3 separate regions of the Homo sapiens genome follow, and regions 1 and 3 are each reported to be linked to region 2. The links are microRNA targets in miRTarBase. Many come from high-throughput screens and were not tested one by one. Region 2 holds a microRNA gene; each other region holds the end of a gene's coding sequence.
What was found. Region 2 holds the annotated microRNA hsa-miR-885-3p (AGGCAGCGGGGUGUAGUGGAUA, at 1,977-1,998, shown strand). A microRNA usually pairs through its seed, bases 2 to 8, with sites in the 3' UTR of a target mRNA and lowers its output. Matches are read on the target gene's strand: a 7mer-m8 pairs with bases 2 to 8, a 7mer-A1 pairs with bases 2 to 7 and ends in A, and an 8mer does both.

Region 1: miRTarBase lists XPNPEP2 as a target of hsa-miR-885-3p. The part of its 3' UTR that is shown has no 7-base or 8-base seed match.
Region 3: miRTarBase lists OTUD5 as a target of hsa-miR-885-3p. Seed matches in the 3' UTR shown: 8mer at 3,328-3,335 and 7mer-A1 at 2,671-2,677.

What each region holds. Positions count from the first base shown.
Region 1 is chrX:129,767,862-129,772,044 of GRCh38, reverse strand. XPNPEP2 (X-prolyl aminopeptidase 2) reads right to left here. Exons shown (of 21, transcript NM_003399.6): 21 at 2,509-3,754. The coding sequence ends at 3,560. Among named protein-coding and RNA genes, the nearest start is that of SASH3, 10 kb to the left of the region's middle. RefSeq lists an enhancer at 3,140-3,640.
Region 2 is chr3:10,392,314-10,396,496 of GRCh38, reverse strand. MIR885 (microRNA 885) reads left to right here and starts at 1,935; the gene lies at 1,935-2,008. The region is part of intron 5 of ATP2B2 (ATPase plasma membrane Ca2+ transporting 2); the gene reads left to right. RefSeq lists an enhancer at 804-1,400.
Region 3 is chrX:48,919,665-48,923,847 of GRCh38, forward strand. OTUD5 (OTU deubiquitinase 5) reads right to left here. Exons shown (of 9, transcript NM_001136157.2): 8 at 3,969-4,082; 9 at 2,360-3,631. The coding sequence ends at 3,510. Among named protein-coding and RNA genes, the nearest start is that of PIM2, 2.7 kb to the left of the region's middle. RefSeq lists enhancers at 657-716, 1,410-2,294, 3,839-4,183.

The sequences.
Region 1 (4,183 bases), not on the chromosome of region 2:
GTGTGTGTGTGTGTGTGTTTGGTCATGGAGCTCCTATTCAGGATTGGCTCTTGAATTTTGCGGGCCTTGTGCAAAATGAAAATGCCCGGTGCCTCTTGCTTAAAAATTATCAAGAATTTTGAGACAGTGACAGGCGAGCATTAAACCAAGCATGGGGCCCTTGTAAGCACAAAGTCTTGAGGGACTGCACAGGTCCTACACCCGTGAAGCTGGCCCTGCAACTACTTCAAGTACAATTTTACGGGAAGCCCGTCAGGGCTACTTCGTGCAGCAGCTCTGTTTTCCTCGACAGCCCCTGTGGTGTTTCTGAGGCATCTCAGGCTCCCGGGAGCATAGTTGGAAAGACGTAAATTAGATGTTTGCTCTAGAGCCTTTCTAATTTTGGCTATTTATATATAAAACTTGGGTTCCAGACCTTTTTCTTACCTACCTGCAAAGGTGAAGCTGAATTGAACTTGTGCTGGGCAAATAACAGCAATATCATTTCTTGTCTGTGTGGCTTCCTGGTTTAGAGTGCTGCCACATCCGGGTCTCATGAGCCTCTCGCTGTAACCTCACCAAGAAGGCAGCATGGGAGATTCCAGAAAGGATAACTGAAGACCAGGGAGAAGTGACTTGCCCAAGGCCACACAGCTGGCACAAATGGGACTCAAACCCCAGAATCTTAACTCCTAGGAAAAGGGGCTTTTCCACATGGCCGGCTCCCCAGGCAATCAGCAGGCGAGGAGAGGTTTGCTAAGCCCCATCCTCCAACATTAAAACAAAGTACTAGAGCCCAAGGGGACAGTTCCTAACAATCTTTCATTCCTAACGATGTCACAAGAGTCCCTGTGTATCAGCCCTGGTGTATGTGCCCTGTTTCCCTGCCTGACCCAGAGTTAATCCCTTAAAGCAGGAATGGTCAAGTCTGGCCATCTGGGTCCCAGGGGAGGGAAGAGCTGGGGTGACTGTGAGCCCTCGTTCCAGCCACGTTCCAGGGCTGGGTTCTTCCTCCCAGAATGGTAGGCTGGAAGGGGCAGTTAAGGGGATTCAGAGATGAGGTGGAGTCCTGGGTCTCGCACTGAGGAAAAAAGCACGAGCTGCCTCGGTCCGAAAGGCCTGTGTGAGGGTGTTGGTCAGGTGCCTGGTCTTGCCACCCATGACCTGCCAGAACCCCAGGAGCAAGTGTCAGGGTGCAAAGGCAAAGGTCTGGCAGGGTCTGGGGAGGCACTATGGTGTGGATCTGCTTCTCCTGCTTGAGCCTCAGTTTTCTTGTCAGTAAAATGATGAAAGCCATACCACTTGCCCTTTATTTTTCTTTATTTTATTATTATTATTATTTTTTGAGATGGAGTCTCGCTCTGTTGCCCAGGCTGGAGTGCAGTGGCACGATCTCAGCTCACTGCAACCTCCGCCTCCTGGGTTCAAACGATTCTCCTGCATCAGCCTCCCGAGTAGCTGGGACTATAGGTGTGCGCCACCACACCCAGCTAATTTTTGTATTTTCAGTAGAGATGGGGTTTCACCATGTTGCCCAGGCTGCTCTTGAAATCCTGGCCTCATGTGATCCTCCCACCTCGGCCTCCCAAAGTGCTGTGATTACAGGGGTGAGCCACCACACCCGGCCAGGACTTGCCCTTTCTTGAGAGTGGATTCTAGAGTCCTCTGACTGGTTTAAATCTGGCTTTTTTTCATTTACCCAATGAAAAAAGTGACTTTGAGTCACTTGATAAATCTCTATGGGCCTCACTGAGTTCCTGCACTTGTAAAATGGGAATAAGAAAAGGGCCTTCTCAGAGGTTGTGAGGATTAAATGAGAAAATGCATGTAAAGCTTCTTGCACGGTGGCACATAAACACTCAGTAAATGGCAGCCATGATGATGATGATGGTGATGATGATGAGGGTGATGATGACTTTAATTTTATTAGTAGTACCTGTCTTTGTGGGGTGAGCAGGTGAGGGAGCAAATTATTTAGCAAACAGAGGCCCATCTTTGGATACTCAGTAAGGCTTGGTCAGGGCTGGAGCCTCTGGATGCAAGCACTGGTGATGGTAACCATCACAGGTCACCCTCACACTCAGCAGACTAGGCCTGATGGTTTCAGGCCAGGAGACTTCTCTGCCTGGTGCCTTTGCCTGGCACCCTGCACCTTGGTTCTTTCCTTCCACCAACTGTGCGCTGCTTGGCAAAGGTGCCAGCCCCAACTTTTCTGGATTACATTTGACAAGTTCCCCAGTGTAGGGCTCCTTTCTGTCCCTTCCACAAGGTTACAATACCTTTTTAGACAGGCTGGAGGTTGGCTGGTTGGGCGTGGTGTGCACGTGCATCTGTGCACATGCGCACACATATTCATATGCATGCTCACACACATACTCTCAAGCCCACGTGCTCCCCCACTGAGCTTCTAGGAGCCTCATGTCCCCACCCCCACCTCACCCTCTCTTCTTCCTCCCCCACCACAAAAGCCACAGGTGACAGCAGTCTCCGGCAACACAGCAGACACAATGCAAAACCCAGAGGCAAGTGTCTTTGTTAGGCTGTTTTAAACGTCTTAGCAGGATGTGGACCCAGGTGGCTAACGGCCAATTTGGCCGGAGCAAATTCTTCTCACCACAGTGGGTTCAGAGAATGAGGAGAGGGCTGGGAGGTGGGCTCAGGGACTCTGCATGTTGCTGAAGGGTGAAAGAGCTGGAATGCTGGCTCATCTGGCCCCATCAACTCCCAACCAAATTTGTGTGTCCTTAGGCAAAGCCCACCCCCTGTCTGAAGCTCAGTTTTCCTGTCTGTAAAATGGAGAAACCAGACACTGTCCACACAAGGTGAAGGGGCATCCAAGAATGTGGGAGGATTTAACAGCATTGTAGCTGTGGCTGCACTTTGGAAAGTTCAAAGGGCTCCTCGAATGCCAGGGAAGTCTAGAATAGTGACGGGTTCCGGCTGCCCAAGTTTGTTCTCCAACCTCTGGTAGGGTCATATTCCAGAGTGCCTCACCGCATTCCCTCTTACTCCACAGCCAAATTCCTATGGCTTAACTCCCTCTGCTGTTACTTGGCATGGAGCCTACCCAGGGTTTAGGAATGATGGGTTCACATGTGGGGGGTTGATGTTTCATGCCCTGGCTGGGTGGGAACAGCTCTGGCTATGCCCAACAGGTGGTGATAGGTTTGGGCTCTCCCGGGACCATGGCACCCTTGGGTGGTAGGGGCATTGCTCTCTTGGGGTTTTGTTTGGCGGGAGGGGAGCAGCTGTAGCAGTCTGTGCTAGGTTATAGGTTAGGCCTACTGAGATCACAGAAGAGAAGAGACTAGCTGGCTTTCCTATCTCGGGGCCTGGGATTAGGGGCCCAGGGTGTGGTATACAACCCCGGGGTGCAGGGAGGTGCCATCTGGGGCCAAGAAGCCCTGTGTTCCTGGGGCCTGGGACCTTCTCCATAGGTCTTGGAGAAGGAGGATGAATGCAAAGGTTTCTAGGCAATGGGCCAGCAGGGGCTCTTGGGGTATGTTCAGTGCAGGGTGAGGGGAGCTAAGCAAGGGAGCCCCCCATCTAGATGGAGGGTTAACAGGAGAGTCTGGAGCCTCTAGACACTCCAGCCAAGGATGGCAAGGGTGGAGACCACTAACACAGAGGCCCAGGAGGCGGTGTCTGGGGCCCTGGCGGCCAGGGGCTCTGTGTGCTGTTGAAGCCACTCGAACTCCTCTAGTAGCTGGCGCCTCTGCAGCTCTGGACCCACCTTCTCCCGGATGGTCTGGTAGTAGCGATTCAGGTACTGGAGCTGCGAAGGATAGAAGGGGTGACAGCCTCTCTAAGCCAAGCTGCCAAGAGGTGAAGTCTTGGTGACGCCCAGTCCCCTGTTGTGGTACTCCAGCTGTCACCATAGTCCAGATGGCCACAGGTCCCCCACCATCATCAGGCTTCAGGAATTCTCTGGGGCTTTTCAGAGGCAGTTCCCCTGGCTGGCTGTTTCATGTCATGGTGATGTTCATGGGCGGTGGGGTGGGTAGATTTCAGGCCCGGGAATGGGAGTAAGCTGGGCAGGCATTCTTATCCTCAGCTTACAAAAGAGGAGACTGAGGCAAAAGAATAGAAGGGATCACTTATAGTTCCAGGCCTTGTAGTGGCCGAGCTCAGAGGCCCAATCTCAGATTCCTCCAGTTATTCACTACCTGGGGTTGGGCAGGCTGGTCTGACTGGAAAGTTCTAG
Region 2 (4,183 bases):
TGGGGGCATTTGTGGTGTCGTTATGGTGGTTGAGAAAGCCCTAGTGTCATCTCATGCACTGTTTCAGCTTAGAAGAGGGCAGGAAACACTCCGCTCTGGTCAGTTGGTCCAACCATGCTTGGCCTGTGACCCTGGACAGGTCCCTTCACCTCTCTGAGCCTCTGTGTCTGTGTCAGTGCAATGGGGAAGCTGGTGAGGCCTCCACTGCCTGCCCCACAGGGCTGTTGTGGGGACCACAGGCATGCACACGTGTGACTGTCCTTTGCAAACAAACCCTGCGGTTGTGAGGTGCTGTATGGTGTGGAAGGAATGTGGCATCTGGAGGCAGAATGCCCAGGTTCCAGCCCTCCAACAGCTCCCACTGTGGCCTCTGCCCCTCAGAACCTCAGTTTCCCCATCTGACAAGTGAGGGCAGACCAGCCTTCAGAAAGACTCAAATGACCTCAACACTCAGGGCACCAAGGAAATCATCAAAACCAGGCAGGTTTCCCCTACCTTCCTACCCTCCAGGGACGGACAGGCAGACACGAGCCCATGTCTGGTGTATCTTCAAACGGGACAGAGTAAAAATATTCAGAAATTGCAAACTCATATGTCTGCAGGGCCAGGTAGGGAGAGCACAGGTGCCAAACCCAAACCACAGCTGCTTCCTGTTGCTGCCTGCAGAAGCGCCAGCCCAATCTGACCTCAGTGCTCACTTTGCAAGAGGAGCCAGAAATCCAGATTTCCCTGTACCAGCTCTCAATGTTTAAGTATTGGCAAGAAATTCCCACATTTTAAGGTCCCTATGGGTCAAGCCACATATGGGTGGGACCTAGAGTGCAAACTCTGACCTAGGCCTATTTTTTAGCTTTGTATTTTAAGATAATTTCAAACTTTCAGAAAAGTTGCAAGGATGGCACAAAGAATACGGGCATGCCCTTCACTCTGATTCGGCTGTTGCTAACCTTTTGCCGTCTTTGCTCTCTGACAAATCTCACTCTCCTCCTCATCATGCAGATGTGATGGCCTTCTCCCGCTAGACACTGCAGGTGTGTCTCCCAAGAGCAAGGGTATTCTCATGCATAACCACAACACAGCCATCAATTCAGGAAACTTGACATTGATTCGGTACTGTTACCTGCTGTGCCATCCATATTCACATTCTGCCAATTGTGCCTGCAGCGTTCTCCAGGCCAGGATCCATGTGGGGTCCTGCATGCCACTTGGATGTCCTGCCTCTTTGGTCTCCTGCATGGAGCAGCGCCTCATCTTTTCATTGTCTTCATGGAAAGCCAGTGTTTTTTAAACCCTCCTAGGTCATGAACTTCCGTGAGAGTTCCACTAAAGCAGTGACCCCTCTTATAAGGAACAGATGCCCAGACTCCTCATCTTGCAACATTTCAGGGGATTCAATGATCCCTAGAGGACCCTGGTCCTATCCCAATTTGCAGCTGGGGAAACTGAGACCCAGAGCAGAAGTGTAAGGCCCCACAGAGGGCAGGGGCAGGGCGGAAGCCAGACCCCAGCTCTGGGCTCTTCCTGTAGCCCCCATGCAGGAGCCTGCCTCCTTGTAGTAACTTCCACTGGGAAATGCAGGACTAGACTAGATGCCATCAATGTGGCAGTGGAAGGGGCTGGAGCCAGGGGGCCAGGATGGCGGGGCTGTCTTCAAAAAACAGCAAGGCCTGGCTCCAGCAGGCCCGATGGCTCAACCCCCGCGAGACCCCGACACACCCTCCTCCCTTCCCCCTGCCAGCCAGAGCACTAACAGCATGAGGTCATGCAGGACATCGGTAAACCCTCTTGGGACTCTGCCCACATCCCAGGACCTGCTGCCCACCCCACCAAGCAGAAGGCCAGGCATGGGAGAGCCGGACCTGCCACCACTGCCACCGTCTCCAGGGAGCCTAGGACGACACCGTGACTGCAGAAGGCCCAGTCTGCTACTCGGCCCGCACTCTCTCCATTACACTACCCTGCCTCTTCTCCATGAGAGGCAGCGGGGTGTAGTGGATAGAGCACGGGTTCAAGTCCCGGCTCCACCACTCACAGCTGTGTGACCCTGGGCCATCACTCAAGCTCTCTGAGCCAGAAAGTGGTGGGTGGAGGGGCTGGGGATTGAACTTGCGCCAAAACCTACCTCAGGGGGCTGTTGTGAGGGGGACACTTTGCCTACTGCCTCGTGCTCTGTGAGCGTGTGTTATTAACTGCATTAATAACAATAATAATGGAAGGACTGTGTCTGGGCTGGGAATCGTTTTGGCTTTGTTTAGTGCTTGTGCCTGGAGGCAGATAATAGCCCCCAGAAATAGCCTCCATCCCTTCTTCACAGCCTCTCCCCACTGAAGGAACCCTTTTAGAAGAGATGAACTCTCCCCTCTCCCTATCCAGGGAGAGGCCTAAAAGGTCACACGCAAGAGATCAAGGAACCCTAGGTCCAGCCCCTACTGTCCTACACCCTCTGCAACTTCAGTCATTCGCCTTATCTGGGCTCAGAAACCCCATTTTGTAAAAGGAGGCTTCCCAGTTCTGCTACCTATGGCTCAGCATACCCCACAAGCCACAGCAGAAGGCTTTGACTCCGAGACTGCCACCATCTAGACCAGCTCAGGGCAAGGGAAAGCCACCTCCTGCTGTTCAGGACAGGCCCAAGGCCAGGATGGGCTTTGAGCCTGCAGCTGGGAAGGTCCTGGCCACTCTCTGCTGCCAGGTCAGAGACCAAGGAACATCCCCTCCACAGGACCAGGACAGGACAGAAGCTTGGGCAGGACAGGACAGACAGTACCATCCACGGAAACCACAGTGTTCCCTGAGCCTGGGCTCCCATTTCCTCCCACTCATGGGATAGCTGGCAGCTCCCCACCACGCTCTGGCCCCCCTTTCTCTCCTTGGGGCTGCCCCAGACAGCTCTCCCACCAACTTTGTCCACAAGGTGGAAAAAGCACAAGATTGGAGCCACAGACCAGCTCCCATCCCAGCTCTGCCTTCCTGGGCTGAATGCAGAGGTGACCCCCTGAGCTGATGCCCTATCTGTGAAATGGGGTGAGGCTGACCACCTCACAGACTGTGACAGCTGAGCGAAAAGTGGCTCAGATGGAACTTGGCACATCATGAATGCTCAAAAGATATTCTCTTCCTTCCTCCCCCTCCACCCAAAAATACTCTCAGCGGCTTCCTATTGAACACCAAGCAAAGACTCCACTCTGTCACCCTCCACTCAGGCACCTTCTCCCTTCGTGGGCGCTGAGCTTTGGCCCGGCCCGCCCGCTACCATCACACTGGACCACCTCCCACCTTTGCCTGGCTGTGTCCCTTCCGGCCCGCCATGTCCTTGGCTTGGTTTTGTCTTGCATTGCTCTGGATCTGTGTGCCTATCTGCTCTCCTTGACCCCAGCTAGACTGTGAGCTCCTGGAGGGCAGGGACCACAGGGGGACCTCTCTCAGACCCGAGAGCCTGGCATGGAGTTGACACCCCACCATGTCTGTCCGTCAAGTGAAGGACTGTGGAGCTGGGGAAGGGGGGCGCCATCTGGTCATTCTGTCCACACGGGCCTCTGCCGGCCTCTCCACACCCTCTTCTTCCCGAGATGTAGCTGTCCACCCTACCCAGGACATGCCCTAGGCTGGTCTCCCTTAGACAGTGTCAAGACACTATTGCTGAGATATGGGGCCTAAGCCAGCTCCCTCCCCACTCTACAGATGACAAAACTGAGGTCCAGAGAGGAGAGGGGCTGGCCCCAAGGTCACATAGCAATCAGAATTAGACACCATGTCCCAGGTGCCCTCTTCTGGGTCCAGGGCTCTCTCTCTACCCCTCCCCGTGCTTGTATTCTGAAGGGCTCTGTGGGCAGTTAGAGGAGGTGGGGGCTACAGAGTGCTGCCCAAGGGACTGTGGACAGTGAGGTCCCACAAGGCCCTATCAGGGCCTCCATCCCCAAGAGGTTCCCACCTCTGCCCCTGTGGTCGTCCTTTGAGAGGTTTAGCCCACTGCGCTTTGACTTGGATGTCTGTTGCTCTGCCATTAATTGCTTCTGCCATGGTGTTAAGCATTGCCCTCTGCAGGGGACTCGTGGAGCTGAAGGGGAACGGTCTAGGGAATGCCCCAGTCCTTTGGAGTCTTCCCCTGGCAGGAGGGCCTGGGAGAGGACAGGGCACAGCCCAGTGAGGTGTGGCAGGAGGGGGCACAGCTGGGATGAATGTG
Region 3 (4,183 bases), not on the chromosome of region 2:
CTTTTAACCCTGAGCCCTGGGCCCAGTCAGCAAGTCTAGAATCTAGAACAGCAGGGGGTGGTTCTTGGGGGATGGGGGTGAGCCCAGAGTGGTGGTGGCATGGGGCTGCTCTTGGAGTTGAGAGAGGCAAGGACTGAGAGACATGATAGAGGCTGCTAGAGAAGTGGCAACTCTCAGACACAAATTTGTGAAAAACAGCCAGAAAAGGCGCCACACCCCAGGAAGAAAAATGCACTCCAAAGACACATGAATGCCAAGATATACACAAACACATACTGTCAGACACATTCACAGAAACGACCTAGATACACATGCAGCCAGAGACTGACATACACTTTCAGGCAAGCACACTGTCAGAAAAATAGTTATGTCCTAGAATGACACCCAGAGATACACTGTTACAGAAAGGCACTCACGCAGACCTACATTTGCCATGTGATGACACAGAAATGTCCCGTCACACTGGCAGAACTTGTCACAAACACACTGTCACCATCAGATATGCACTGTCACAGCAAGACTTGTACTGTCCCAGAAATGAGAGACGCAGAGTCTGTCACAGGAAGATGCACAGATGCTCCAGGGACACACATGCACTGCTCTGAAGGCAGACATGTACTGATGTGATAGAATCACATTTTGTGGCAGTGTCACAAAAACAGACATGGATAGACCTGTTCAGACACAGACATACATACACCATGACACATGCAGTTTATCAATGGAACAAACTGTCCAGAAATAGCTACCCAGAATCTGTTGCAGGAACACAAACGGACATCCACCCCATCAGACAGAAACCACAGATGCACTGTCACAGACAGACCCACGCAGGCATGCACGCATCTTGGATTTAGACACAAACTGTCAGAGATAAGAGTCCCACACTCAGTCACCATCTGACACACCTGGAAACAAGCCCTTCATCACACACACAACTGGGGACACTCTGTGAGCTGCACATGAAGACTTGGACTCACCACAGTCACACACACACAGACAACACCAAAAAAGCACACATGTACTCTCCTTTGTTCACCCAACGTTATTGGGGGTGGTTTGCTATAAGCCTGCCAGGCCTTGATGGGGATGTTGGTATCAGAGATGTACAGATAAGTCAGGCATCAAACCCGTGCCATGAAGTTTATCTGTAGTACAGCTACTGGGGAGATTTTTAGATAGAAGTGAGAATGTGAATGGGCTTCTCAGCAGGTGACCCTCTGTCTTGAAAGACAAAGAAGGTTGGTGGCTCAGGACAGGGGAGGGCAAATTGCAGGCAAAGGCCAAGAACACTGGACAGAGCGGCGAGAGATTGGCAGGGGCCAAATGGTGCAGAAACTTCTACAAAAAGAATACTACTAACATTTGTGCTCTCTCAATGTGCCAAGCACTGTGCCCAGGTAGTACGTTACTTTGATCATACATATTCCCTCTAGATGATCACAGCAGAAGCATGAGGGAGTAGATATCACTTTTTTTTTTTTTTTTTAAGACTGAGTCTCGCTCTGTCACCCAGGCTGGAGTGTGGTGGCGCAATCTCGGCTCACTGCAACCTCCACCTCCTGGGTTCAAGCGATTCTCATGCCTCAGCCACCCAAGTAGCTGGGATTACAGGCACGTACAACCATGAACGGCTAATTTTTGTATTTTTAGTAGAGATGGGGTTTCTCCATGTTGGCCAGGCTGGTCTCGAACTCCTGATCTCAGGTGATTCACCCACCTCAGCCTTCCAAAGTGCTGGGATTATAGGTGTGAGTCACTGCACCCAGCCTAATCACCTCTTGTACAGATGAGACACTTGAAACAGAGAAGCAATTGACCAGGGCCAGGAAGGTTTCAAAGCAACTCTACAACAAATAGATGCTTGGCCACTGGGTTCCAGACACACTCCGCAGACAGCCACTCAGCTAGCCATGCCCTCAACTGCAGAACCAGACACACATCCTGTCAGAGGGTCTCCATTATCATGGCATGGTGAAAAAGCTGCTTGAGAAAACCTGGGGGCCAGCCAGCCTTCTTTACCTTGGATTTACCCCTAGGGAGGACAGGCAAAGAGGTGTCAGACTGGGGGACAAGAACAAAAAAGGGTTTAGCCGTCCTTCACCTTCTAAAACCTAGTGGGTGAGGCCCCTCTGGTTACTTCCACTAAACTCATGTTGCTACAAAGTATCAGTTGCACTTTTCCAAGGCTTTTCTTCATCAGATCATGATAAGGAAAGAGCAGCATTCATGGTGAGAGGCAGGCGGAGAAGCTGGAATTCAGGCAGGAAGTTCAAGCTCACAGTCCTCTGCTACCATCACCCCCCCCCCCCCAGGAAATAGGGTAGGCAGGGGTGGGGTCAGCAGGCAAAGACGCAGCTTTTCCAGTGGCAATAGGTCCAGAAGGAGGTTTAATAAGCAGCAAATCAAATACAAACTCCAGGCCCCCAGACAGACCCTGCTGGAGAGCATTCACACCTCTGAGGTCAAGCCAAGGTCCGTGCCATTGCATCCTCTGCCCAGAGGCCCGCCCAACCCCTGCCCCACACAGAACAGAGTCGCTCAGGGAAACTGACATTTGGTTTTATTGTGCCAAGGACATTACAGATGGCGGATCTTGTCAACACCTGCAGGGCACGGGTGCCCCATCTGCCAAGGCTGCTCCCACACTCCCTACACTCAAATCCCGGGTGGCAGCCATAATCCCCAAAGATGACCCCCACCCCAAGATTCCAAAGAAGCTAGTGGTGGTGGAAGCAAAAGGAATGCAGCAAGGTCAGGGTTTCATTGTCCAAGCCGGCCTGACACCTGCCGCCCTGCCCTTGCCCAGTGCACACCCTAGACCCTGGGCCGGCCTCCATGCAGCTGGAGGCCAGAAGACAGCAACCCATATCTTTGCACCCTCCTCCATGCCCCATGGCCTGCCTGCCCAGAAAGATGCCACCTTCACAGAGCCAGTGCTGTCGTCTATATCATTTTTGATTAGTTGATTTTATAAGATAAAAGTAATTTTAATAAAGAAAAAATTCAACATTGAAGGCTCAGACGTTCTTGGGGGTACTGGGAAGGGAAATTTCCCACTTCTTCCTCCCACCTCCCTGGCATCAGTGTCGGGGGGTGGCGGCAAGTTTTTCTCATCTTGGAAGGAATGAGGGGCAGGGAGACTTTCCTCTGTCTGAATGTCTCTCTCCTCTGGGGCTGCCTGGCTGCCAGTTGGTCTGTCTCTGTGTGCCTCTTGTCTATCTTCGGCACCCTTGCCCGAGTCCCCTGTGGAATGCAGGGATGGTTCTGTGCGGGATGGGGTGGGGGGCAACAGGGCACATCAGCTGGCAGAGAGACAGGTGATAGTGGCAGCGGCAATGAGAGAGAGTGCAGGGGTGGGCTAGCCAGAGGGAAGTGAGGAGGAGGGAAAAGAGGGGAGAGCAGAAAGAACAGAAGGAGGCAAGAGGGAAGAAGCCAAAGAAGGTGAGGTGGCACCGGAGAGCAGGAGTACTGGGGTTGGGAGATGGTGTCCAATCCCTGGGTCTCCATCAACTCTTGTCTGGGGGCGGGTCTCTGTGCACTTTGTTTTTCTTCATACTGTCTAGGTATTCCTGTTGGGACACTGCCAGCACCGAAGCTAGGATCTCATCATCATCCCAGTCATTCAGACCTGCTGGGCGAGAGGAAGAGGAAAAGGATGATGGAGCGCTCTCAGCCTGCCTTCTCCTCACCCTGTGCCGACATCTGGGGCTCTGGAGAAATCCCATAGGGCCCTTCTCACTCCTTTCTCAAAACAGAAGGATCTGCTAGGCCTGTGAAACCCCACTTAGACCCCAGACCCTTCTGGGGCAAATTCCTTGGATCTGAAAAATCCCCTCCAGTGCCTCTCCCTTCTTTTCTTGGGGAGATGGCCAGAGGCTCCAGAAAGCCCCTCTCAGGACTTGCCACTTCTTCCAGTCTCTCCCAGCTCCTAGCAGCCTCCATCCCCCCAGACAAAGGAGGCTTACCAAAGGCAGAGGGGGACATCTGCTGAATGAGGGCCCGGCACTCCAAAGCAGGGTAGAGGGACACAAGGGGGGAAGTTGCCCGGTCGGCCCCTGCCGAGAACTGACTGCTTGTACCTGAAGCAGACGGACAGTCAAAGGTAGGGACCCAGGATCCAGGACCCAGGACCCAGGACGTGCCTCCTAACTCCCAGCACATTCCCTGTGGGCAAGTCACT